Homo sapiens: one gene and its partner. Each later gene encodes a partner of the first gene's protein in a complex. Each region holds a gene or a part of one and is shown on either strand. Other genes may lie near its edges.

Region 1 (7,308 bases):
GGGCCACGCTACTCTGAGCAAATTTAAAGTATCAGAGTGCCTGAGACTAGATAGTGGAAGTACTCGGGAGTCAGGGCTAGATTATCCTGTAGGGAAGGGAACGTGAGCCATTGAAGAGTTTTAGCAGACAGTCACAACTTTACCTTATTTCCAATCTTTGGAAAACAAAGGGCTTAAGGTAAAAACTTTGTGGAGCCATTAAGCTGGAAGAGGATTCAGCTCTATCTGGTGAATTTTAAAATGTTAAAAATATTCTATATTGTCTTCTTCCAGGAACTTTCACATTCATTCAGACTTTGTAGTTTCCACATTTATTTGTCCAGTTGATACAGCATTTCAGATAGTTTTACTGTTGAAAATTATAAGGACATTTGCCCTCCAACTATGATTGTATATTCCATGATAATAATTTTGTTTCTTTTATACCCTATCAGCAAAGACTCTTGGAACTGTAACGCCCAGAAAACCTGTCTTATCTGTCAGTGCAAGAAAAATTAAGGACAATGCGGCTGATTGGCACAATTTAATCCTGAAGTGGGAAACCCTCAATGATGCAGGTTTTACCACTGCAAATAATATTGCCAACTTGAAAATCAGTTTATTGTAAGTACATATTGGTTTTTCATGCTCTAAGTTTTTCACCCTTAATAACTGGGGAAATAATGTGAATAAATTTTAAAATAAAATATTAAGCAAAAAAAGCAAGTGGTAAGATGATACGTGTAAGTATAAATTGTATTGTACATTTTAAATACAAAATTATATTCCATATATATATATATATATATATATATTTAGTTATTTATTTATTTATTTTTTTGGAGATGAAGTCTCACTCTGTTGCCTAGGCTGGAGTGTGATGGCGCGATCTCAGCTCACTGCAACCTCTACCGCCTGGGTTCAAGCAATTCTCCTACCTCAGCCTCCGGAGTAGCTGGGATTACAGGCGCCCGTCACCACACCCAGATAATTTTTGTATTTTTAGTAGAGACGGGCTTTCACCATGTTAGGCTGGTCTCGAACTCCTGACCTTACGTGATCCACCTGCCTCAGCCTCCCAAAGTGCTGTGTGAGCCACCGTGCCTGGCTATTCTGATTTTTAAAACCACAGATTCTTTGATTCTTTTGTAGTTCATAGGCATAATGATTGGGTTTTCATGCTCATGTATGACCTGTGCCTTCCTCAAACTTTGCTATGATGTTGGCACATTACCTAGCTGATATGGAAAAAACTACCATGAATTCTTTTCATCCATTTTTGGATTTTACGTAAACAAAAAACATATGTTATTGTTTCCTTTATATCTCACTTTCTTTTTCTATTTTTTATTTTTTATTTTTGGAGACGAGTCTCACTCTATCCCCCAGGCTGGAGTGCAATGGCGTGATCTTGGCTCACTCTAACTTCTGCCTGTCAGGTTCAAGTGGTTCTCCTGTCTCAGCCTCCTGAGTAGCTAGAATTACAGATACCTGCCACCATGCCCGGCTAATTTTTGTATGTTTAGTAGAGACAGAGTTTCACCATGTTGGCCAGGCTAGTCTCAAACTCCTGACCTCAAGTGATCTGCCCACCTTGGCCTCCCTAAATGCCGGTATTACAGGCATGAGCCACTGCGCCCAGCCATGTCTCACTGTCTTTCAACATGGAAGCCATGCGTGTAATGTAGAGCCACTATTCTGGTTCTGTTCTTTCTCATTGCTGTTTAATAGTGTTTACCCACATTAGACCTCTCACACTGGTTTATCAACTAAGTTATATAATATTCTCAATCTTTTGTTGTCATTTCAACAGTGTGCACAGTGTCTTTCCCAGGAATAGATTCCATCTCAAGAAACCACCTTCTTTGCTCATCCATAAGAAACAATTCCTTATCTGTTCAAGTTTTCTCATGAGATTGCAGCAATTCAGTTCCATCTTCAGACCCCACTTCCAGTTCTGGTTCTCTTGCTTTTTCCACTGGCAGAGTAGATTTAACATCATTCTTAAGGGCCCTAGGAATTTGAGAATGGTAAATGAGCATTGGATTCAACTTAAAGTCACTAACTGCAATATCCCCTAATAAGAGGGTGAGCCTGTCTCTTGAAGCTTTGAAGCCTGTCATTGACTTCTCTGTAGTTGTGAATGTCTTGGATGGCATGTTCTTCTAATAGAAGGCTGTTTCATCTACACTGAAAATCTGTTGTATCATGTAGCCACCTTCATCACTGATCTTAAGTAGATCTTCTGGATAACTTGCTCCAGCTTCTACATTAGCGCTTGCAGCTTCACCTTGCACTTTTATGTTATGGAGATGGCTTTTGTCCTTAAACCTCATGAACCAAATCCTGCTATCTCAAACTTTTCTTCTGTAACTTCCTCATATCTCTCAGCCTTCACAGAATTGAAGAGAGTTAGGGTCCTGCTGTGGATTAGGCTTTGACTTAAGGGAATGCTGTGTCTGGTTTGATCTTCTATCCAGACCACTCAAACTTTCTCCATATCCACACTAAGGCTGTTTCACTCATCATTCACATGTTCACTGGAGTAGCACCTTTAATTTTCTTCAGTAACTTTTCCTTTGCCTTCACAACTTGGCCAACTGTTTGGCACAAGAGGCCTGGTTTTCAGCTTATCTTAGCTTTTTTTTTTTTTTTTTTGTAGAGATGGAGTCTCGCTCTGTCGCTCAGGCTGGAGTGCAATGGTGCAATCTTGGCTCACTGCAACCTCTGCCTCCCGGGTTCAAGCAATTCTCCTGCCTTTGCCTCCCAAGTAGCTGGGACTACAGGTGCACACCGCCACGCCCAGCTAATTTCTTTTGTATTTTAGTAGAGACGGAGTTTCACATGTTGCCCAGGCTGGTCTTGAATTCCTGAGCTCAGGCAATCTGCCCGCCTTGGCCTCCCAAAGTGCTAGGATTACAGGCGTGAGCCACCGCACCTGGCCCCTTATCTGAGCTTTTGACATGCCTTCCTCACTAAGCTTAATCATTTCTAGCTTTTAATTTTTTTGTTTCTTAAATTGGCCAAAGTATAGCTTTTGATTTAAAATGAGAGATATGCAACTCTTCCTTTCACTTGTACACTTAGAGGCCAATGTAGGGCTATTAATTGGGTTGATTTCAGTATCCTCCTATTTCAGGGAACAGGGAGGCCCAAGGAGATGGGGAGAAAGGGGAGCAGCCGGTCAGTGGAGCAGTCAGAACACACAACATCCATTCATTAAGCTTGCCGTTATATATGCACATGGTTCATGGCACCTCAAAACAATTAAACTAGCAATATCAAAGATTACCAATCACAGATCATAGACATAATAATGAAAAAGTTTGAAATATTGTAAGAATTACCAAAATATGATAGAGAGACATGAAGTAAGCACATGCTGTTGGCAAAATGGTGCTGATTGACTTGCTCTACATACAGAGGGTTGCCACAAACCTTCAATTTGTAAAAAATGCATTATCTATGAAACTGAATAAGGTGAAGCACAATAAAATGAGGCGTGCCTATATTCCTGGATTGTGAACTCTTTGAGGAAATGATCCATGTCTTATTCATCTTTGTACATCCAGCACCATGCCCTATGCCAAGGATGCCACACCGCTGAATGGTGTTTTTTTTTTTTTTGAGACAGTCTTGCTCTTTTGTGCAGGCTGAGTGCAGTGGTGCTATAATGGCTCACTGCAGCCTTGACTTCCTGGGCTTAAGTGATCCTCCCACCTGAGCCTCCTAAGTAGCTGGGACCACATACGTGTCCCACCATGCCCAGCTAATTTTTACTTTTAATTTTTGTGGAGATGAGGTCTCACTGTGTTGCCCAGGCTGGACTCAGACTCCTGGACTCAAGCAGTCCTCCCGCGTCCATCCCTCAAAGTGTTGGGATTACAGGCATGAGCCACCAAAACCGGCTGTCACATGGCTGAATTTAACTGACTTATTTTGGTGCAAAATTGAGTGACCAATGGACATATTCATTGCACATATAAATAATAACTGCATTTGTATCATAATGATATGAAAGAACAATGCTTATGCAAAATGTCCCACGTAACTATGTGGATATAGAGGTTTGTAGAATTTATTATAAGGAAATAAGGCAAGCTTAAAGAGTATATTTTGTACACATTATTTTCTATTTTGTTTAGGAATAAAGACAAGATAGAACTAGACAGCAGCAGCCCAGCCTCGAAGGAAAATGAAGAAAAGGTGTGTCTGGAATATAACGAGGAACTGGAGAAGCTGTGTGAGGAACTGCAGGCCACCTTGGATGGGTTGGTAAGACATAAAGACGCAGGCCACTTGTGGTCACTGTCACTGAATCCGATGGACGTATTTGGGGTTTGCTTGACCATTGGCCATCACTTACTCCTTCTCAGTCTCCTCTGATGTTCTCTTCCTCTGCCTGCTGCGTAAACCTTAATGTTCCCCAAGATGCTGTCTTAGACACTCACTCCTCCTGTGCGTCATCCGGGGAAATGTCACCCACTTTCAGGGCTCATCACATAGTAAATTTTTTTTTTTTTTCCATGATATGGAGTCTTGCTTTGTCGCCCAGGCTGGAGTGCAATGGCGTGATCTTGGCTCACCGCAAACTCCGCCTCCTGGGCTCAAGCGATTCTCCTGTCTCAGCCTCCAGAGTAGCTGGGACTACAGGCGTCCGCCACCATGCCTGGCTAATTTTTGCATTTTTAGTTGAGACAGGGTTTCACCATATTGGTCAGGCTGATCTCAAACTCCTGACCTCAGGTGATCCACCTGCTGGCCTCCCAAAGGGCTGGGATTACAGGCATGAGCTACCACGCCCAGCCACAGAGTAAATATTTTAGGCTTCCAGGGCCAGCCAGTCTCTATCTCAGCTACTCATCTCTGCCACATAGGACTAAACAGCCATAGATAATATATGCGTAAATGGATGTGGCTGCATTCCATGAAAACTTTATCTTTGTTTTTTGGATTTTCTTTTTTTTTTTTTTTGAGATGGAGTCTCATTCTGATACCCAGGGTGGAGTACAGTAGCATGATCTTGGCTCACTGCAAACTCCGCCTCCCAGGTACAAGTGATTCTGCTGCCTTAGCCTCCCAGGTAGCTGGGATTACAGGCTCGTGCCACCACATGAGCTAATTTTTGTATTTTTAGTAGAGACAGCATTTCACCATGTTGACCAGGCTGGTCTCGAACTCCTGACCTCAAGTGATCAGCCTGCCTTGGCCTCCCAAACTGCTGGGATTACAGGCGTGAGTCACCGCACCTGGCCTTTTTTGTTTTTGTTTTTGTTTTTTTTGAGACAGGGCCTCACTCTGCCACTGAGGCTGGATGGAGTGCAGTGGCGAGATCTTGGCTCACTGCAACCTCCGCCTCCTGGGTTCAAGCAATTCTTGTGCCTCAACCTTCCACATAGCTGGGATCGCAGGTGTGCGCCACCATGCCCAGCTAATTGTTGTATTTTTAGTAGAGATGGGGTTTCACCATGTTGGCCAGGCTGGTCTCGAAGTCCTGGCCTCAAGTGATCCACCCACCTCAGCCTCCCAAAGTGTTGGGATTACAGGCGTGAGCCACCATGTTCGTCCAGGAAATCTTTATCTTTGGACACCGAAATTAGAATTTTGTATAATTTTTATGAGTCACAATCACTATTGTCCTTTTGGTTATTTTCAACCATTTAAAAATGTAAAAACCATCTTAGCTTATGGGCCATACAGAAATAGGCTATGGGCCAGAATTGACCTGTGTTCCAGGGATAGTTTGCCCATCCCTGATACAGCACGTAAGAGACTAAAGTGTTTGTTTAATGAACTAATAACTAAATTTCAATACCTACCATACTGGCCACCAGATGTGAAGATAACACCACCTTATTTCTTTGCTAGGCACAGGAAATCAGGTTTTACACATATTTGAACTTGGATAACTGAAGCTTACCCATAAACATTTAAGATCTTTATATTTTCACCTTTTTGTTTGTTTGGAGACAAGGTCTCGCTGTGGAATGCAGTAGTATGATCACAGCTCACTGCAGCCTTTACTTCCTGGGCTTAAGTGATCTTCTTGCCTCAGCCTCCCGAGTAGCTGGGACTACAAGCATGAACCATCATGCCCGGCTAATTTTTAAAATTCGTTTGTACAGACGGGGTTCTCATGTTGGCCAGGCTGGTCTCGAACTCCTGACATGAAGTGATCTTCCCACCTTGGCCTCCCAAAGTGCTGGGATCACAGGTGTGAGCCCTGGCGCCCTGCCTTAGCTTTTCCGTCATGTCTTGTTTTGGCTTCAGGATCCTGTATGACATCGAGTCCCCTTGTTTCCTCAGGCTCCTTTTGGCCGTGACAGTTTCTCAGACTTCCCTGTTTTTGATGACTTTGACAATGTTGAGGGATACTGGTCAGGTATTTTGTAGAACATCATGAGATTTATCTGATGTTTTTCTCCTAATTAGACTGAGGTTACGGGTTTTGTTCAGAGGAGGACCACAGAAGTAAAGTGCCATTTCTATCATGTCATATCAAGGGCACGTACTGGATATACTGTCATCAGGACTTTTCTTTGGGTCCCACCTATTGCCCGGGCTGGTCTCAAACTCCTGGGCTCAAGCAGTGCTCCCACCTCAGCCTCCCAAAGTGCTGGGATTCCAGGCGTGAGCCACTGTGCACAGCCAGGACTTTCCACTGCTGAAGTTGACCTTGATCACCTGGCTGGGCAGTGTTTCCAGGTTCCTCTGCTGTGACGTTGCTCTTTCTCCTCCTCCCACGCTGTGCTCTTTGGCAGGAAGTCACTATGCATAGCCCACACCTGGGGGTAGGGACGTATTCACCACCTGCTTGAGGGTGCAGTATCTACATAAATTATTTGGAATTATTCTGCGTGGGAGATTTGTTCCCTCCCTCCCATTTGTTAATTTTTTTTTTTTTTGAGATGGAGTTTCACTCTTGTTGCCCAGGCTGGAGTGCAGTGGGGTGATCTCTGCCCACTGCAACCTCTGCCTCCTGGGTTCAAGTGATTCTCCTGTCTCAGCTTCCCAAGTAGCTGGGATTACAGGTGCCTGCCACCACACCCAGCTAATTGTTGTATTTTTATTTGTTTTTTTTTAATTTTTGTTTTGGCCAGGCGCAGTGGCTCATGCCTGTAATCCCAGCACTCTAGGAGGCCGAGGCAGGTGGATCACCTGAGGTCAAGAGTTTGAGACCAGCATGGCCAACATAGTGAAACCCCATCTCTACTAAAAATACAAAAAATTAGCTGGGGGTGGTGGCAGGTGCCTGCAATCCCAGCTACTTGGGAGGCTGAGGCGGGAGAATCACTTTCGGAGGTTGCAGTTAGCCGAGATCAAGCCACT
Region 2 (2,888 bases), on another chromosome or scaffold:
AATGATCAAAATTAACATTATCAAGAAGGTACAGATGTCATGTGCCTTCAGCTGTGATACTCTGAGAATACAATGCCCCTATGTAGTGCTCGACTGGTAATACATAACCTGAATCTACCATGATAAAACATCAACTACAAGTCCAGGAATGAACTGCTCAATAAAATAATTGGTCTATACTCTTCAAAAATGTCAGGGTCAAGAAAGATTGAGACACTGTTTCAAGTTAAGAGGCTAAAGAGACATGGTGACTAAATGAAATGTGTGATCCTAGACTGGATCCTGTAATGGGGAAAATTACCATATAGGACGTTATTGTGACCATACATGAAATTCACTGGATGATAGATTAAAATACTGTGTCAGTATTAAATTTGCTGAATTTGGTCATATAATAACCTTATTTGTAACAAATACACACTCAAGTATTAAGGGGGGAAAGGGACATTATGTATATAATCTATTCTCAAACCACTCAAAAAAAAATGTGTGTATGTGTATATGTACAAGGGGTGGGGAAGACAGAGAAAGCAAATGTGGCAAAATGTTAAAGATTAGTGAATCTGGGTTTGAGCACATAAAAATTCTTTGTACTATTTTTGCAACTTTTCTGTAAGTATGAAATTATTTCAGGGTTTAATAAAAAAGCAATCACCCAAAACCAACCACCCCTTACAACAAAATCAACACACACACACTTTCTTCCTAAATTACAGTATTTTATTTAATATGCCTTTTAAAAATAAATGAGCCTTAGCTTATCAGGCACAAGTTTTTTTTGTTTTGTTTTGTTTTATTTATTCACTTACAGGAAATATAAACACAAATTCTAAAAGTGTGAAGTTGCAAACGACAGGCAAGTTCACATTTCAATTAATGTGAACTGAACAAGAGTTTAAGGTGATTTTTAAATACCTTCCACGTTAGAAAATCCTTCTTTCTTAAATAAGTTTTCATATAAAGCCAAGTCCTTGCAACTTAACGACGGTTTTACAGTCTTAAGTGATTTTAGAAAGTGCTCTTGTTTCACTGTAGTTGCGTCTAGTCCATTTTCTTGCAGAGCCAGCAAAGCAGCCTATTAAGAGACAAGCAATAGAAAACAATTTCTTTTGCTTTTTTTTCTTTGAGATGGAGTTTTGCTCTTATTGCCCAGGCTGGAGTGCAGTGGCACGATCTGGACTCACTGCAACCTCCGTCTTCTGGTTTCAAGCAATTCTCCTGCCTCAGCCTCCCAAGTAGCTGGGATTACAGAAGGCTGCCACCACGCCCAACTAATTTTTGTATTTTTAGTAGAGACAGGGTTTCACCATGTTGGCCGGGCTCATCTTGAACTCCTGACCTCATGATCCACCTGCTTCAGCCTCCCAAAGTGCTGGGATTACAGGTGTGAGCCACAGCGCCTGGCTTCTTTTCTTTTTTTTTTAACAATATATGGTAATACTTTAAACTCTGAATGGAAAATCTCAGCCTCACTTCATAGGATTCTAATTTTCATGTCACTAAAAACATTATGCTAAAAAGTTAAATAAGGTGATTAGAAATCCACTTTGCAGACCATAACCTCTTTACATTAATGGGAAAAAAGAAAGCATTAAATGAGAAGAAAGAAAAGGCAAGTTGCAGATTAATATGTATTTTATGAACCCATATGTATTTTTAAAGATGAGAGAATATCTTCCTGATCGTTAAGTAGGGAAGAGTCTTCAGCCAGCACTGATTATAAAGGAATAGATCAAACACATACCCTATGACCCAGCAATTCTCCTTGTAGCTAACTATGTTTACAAATAGACATAAATAGACACGGGAACTAAGAGACATGTACAAGGCTGTTCACAGCAGCATAACTCATAATAGCAAAAAAGTAGAAACCCAGATATTCCAAAATAAAAGAATGGATAAACAAATGTAGAATATTCATATACTAGAATATTATAAACTATGCTACACACAAAACTATGGATAAATTTCTTTTTAGGTTAAAGAACCAGACAGAAAATAACATATGCCACATGCTTCCATTCATATAAAGTTCAAAAGCAGACAAAACTAATCCCCACTGTTGTTAGTCAGGAGAGTGGTTCCCTTTTGTTTTGTTTTTTGTTTTTTTTTTTTTTTTTGGGGGGGGGGGACAGAGTCTTGCTCTGTCACCCAGGCAGAAGTACAGTGACACAATCATGGCTCACTACAGCCTTGACCTCCAGGCTCAAGTGATCCTCCCACCTCAGCCTCCTGAGTAGCTGGGACAATTTTTTAAAAGTTTTTGTAGAGACAGGGTCTCCCCATGTTGCCCAGGTTGGTCTCAACTCCTGGGCTCAGATGATCCTCCTGCCTTGGCCCCAACAAAATGCTGGGATTACAGGCATGAGTCACTAAGCCCAGCCAATAGTTCTCTTTTGGAAGAAGGTAGGTGACAGAGGTTGGGAAAGGGCCCAAAGGAAGATTCTGGGGTGTTTATAATGTTCTATTTCTTGACATAAGTAGTGATTATAAAAATGTGATCACTTTAATTCAATGAACTGTACCCTTATGATCCGTGCATTTTTCTGAATGTTATATTTAGTAAAAGTTTACGAAAAAGGGTATCTTAGAGTGGTTTACAAGGACCCGTGTGTCCTGGCCATTGTCTACTCCTTCAGCTTTTTTTTTTTCCTAAGAGACAGAGTCTCACTCTGTCACCCAGGCTGGAGTGCAGCGGCACGATCTCATCTTACTGCAACCTTCGCTTCCCAGGCTCAAGCAATCCTCCCATCTCCCCCTCCCAAGTAGCTGGGACTACTAGTCCCCCACGTAGCTGGGACTAACACCACATTTGACTAATTTTTTATTTTTTCTAGAGATGGGGTCTCACTGTATTACCCAGGCTGATCTTAAACTCCTGGGCTAAA

What was found.
Region 2: CINP (region 1) and AFG2B share a complex: the UniProt entries of both Homo sapiens proteins name them as parts of the 55LCC heterohexameric ATPase complex.

The regions. Positions count from the first base shown.
Region 1 is NC_000014.9:102,352,714-102,360,021, reverse strand, and holds part of CINP (cyclin-dependent kinase 2-interacting protein), read left to right. Parts: intron 1-434; coding exon 435-603; intron 604-1,119; exon of another isoform or gene 1,120-1,223; intron 1,224-4,124; coding exon 4,125-4,254; intron 4,255-7,308. UniProt on the Homo sapiens protein: Component of the DNA replication complex, which interacts with two kinases, CDK2 and CDC7, thereby providing a functional and physical link between CDK2 and CDC7 during firing of the origins of replication.
Region 2 is NC_000015.10:45,419,230-45,422,117, reverse strand, and holds the end of AFG2B (ATPase family gene 2 protein homolog B), read right to left. Parts: intron 1,076-2,888; coding exon 908-1,075; 3' UTR 703-907; downstream 1-702. UniProt on the Homo sapiens protein: ATP-dependent chaperone part of the 55LCC heterohexameric ATPase complex which is chromatin-associated and promotes replisome proteostasis to maintain replication fork progression and genome stability.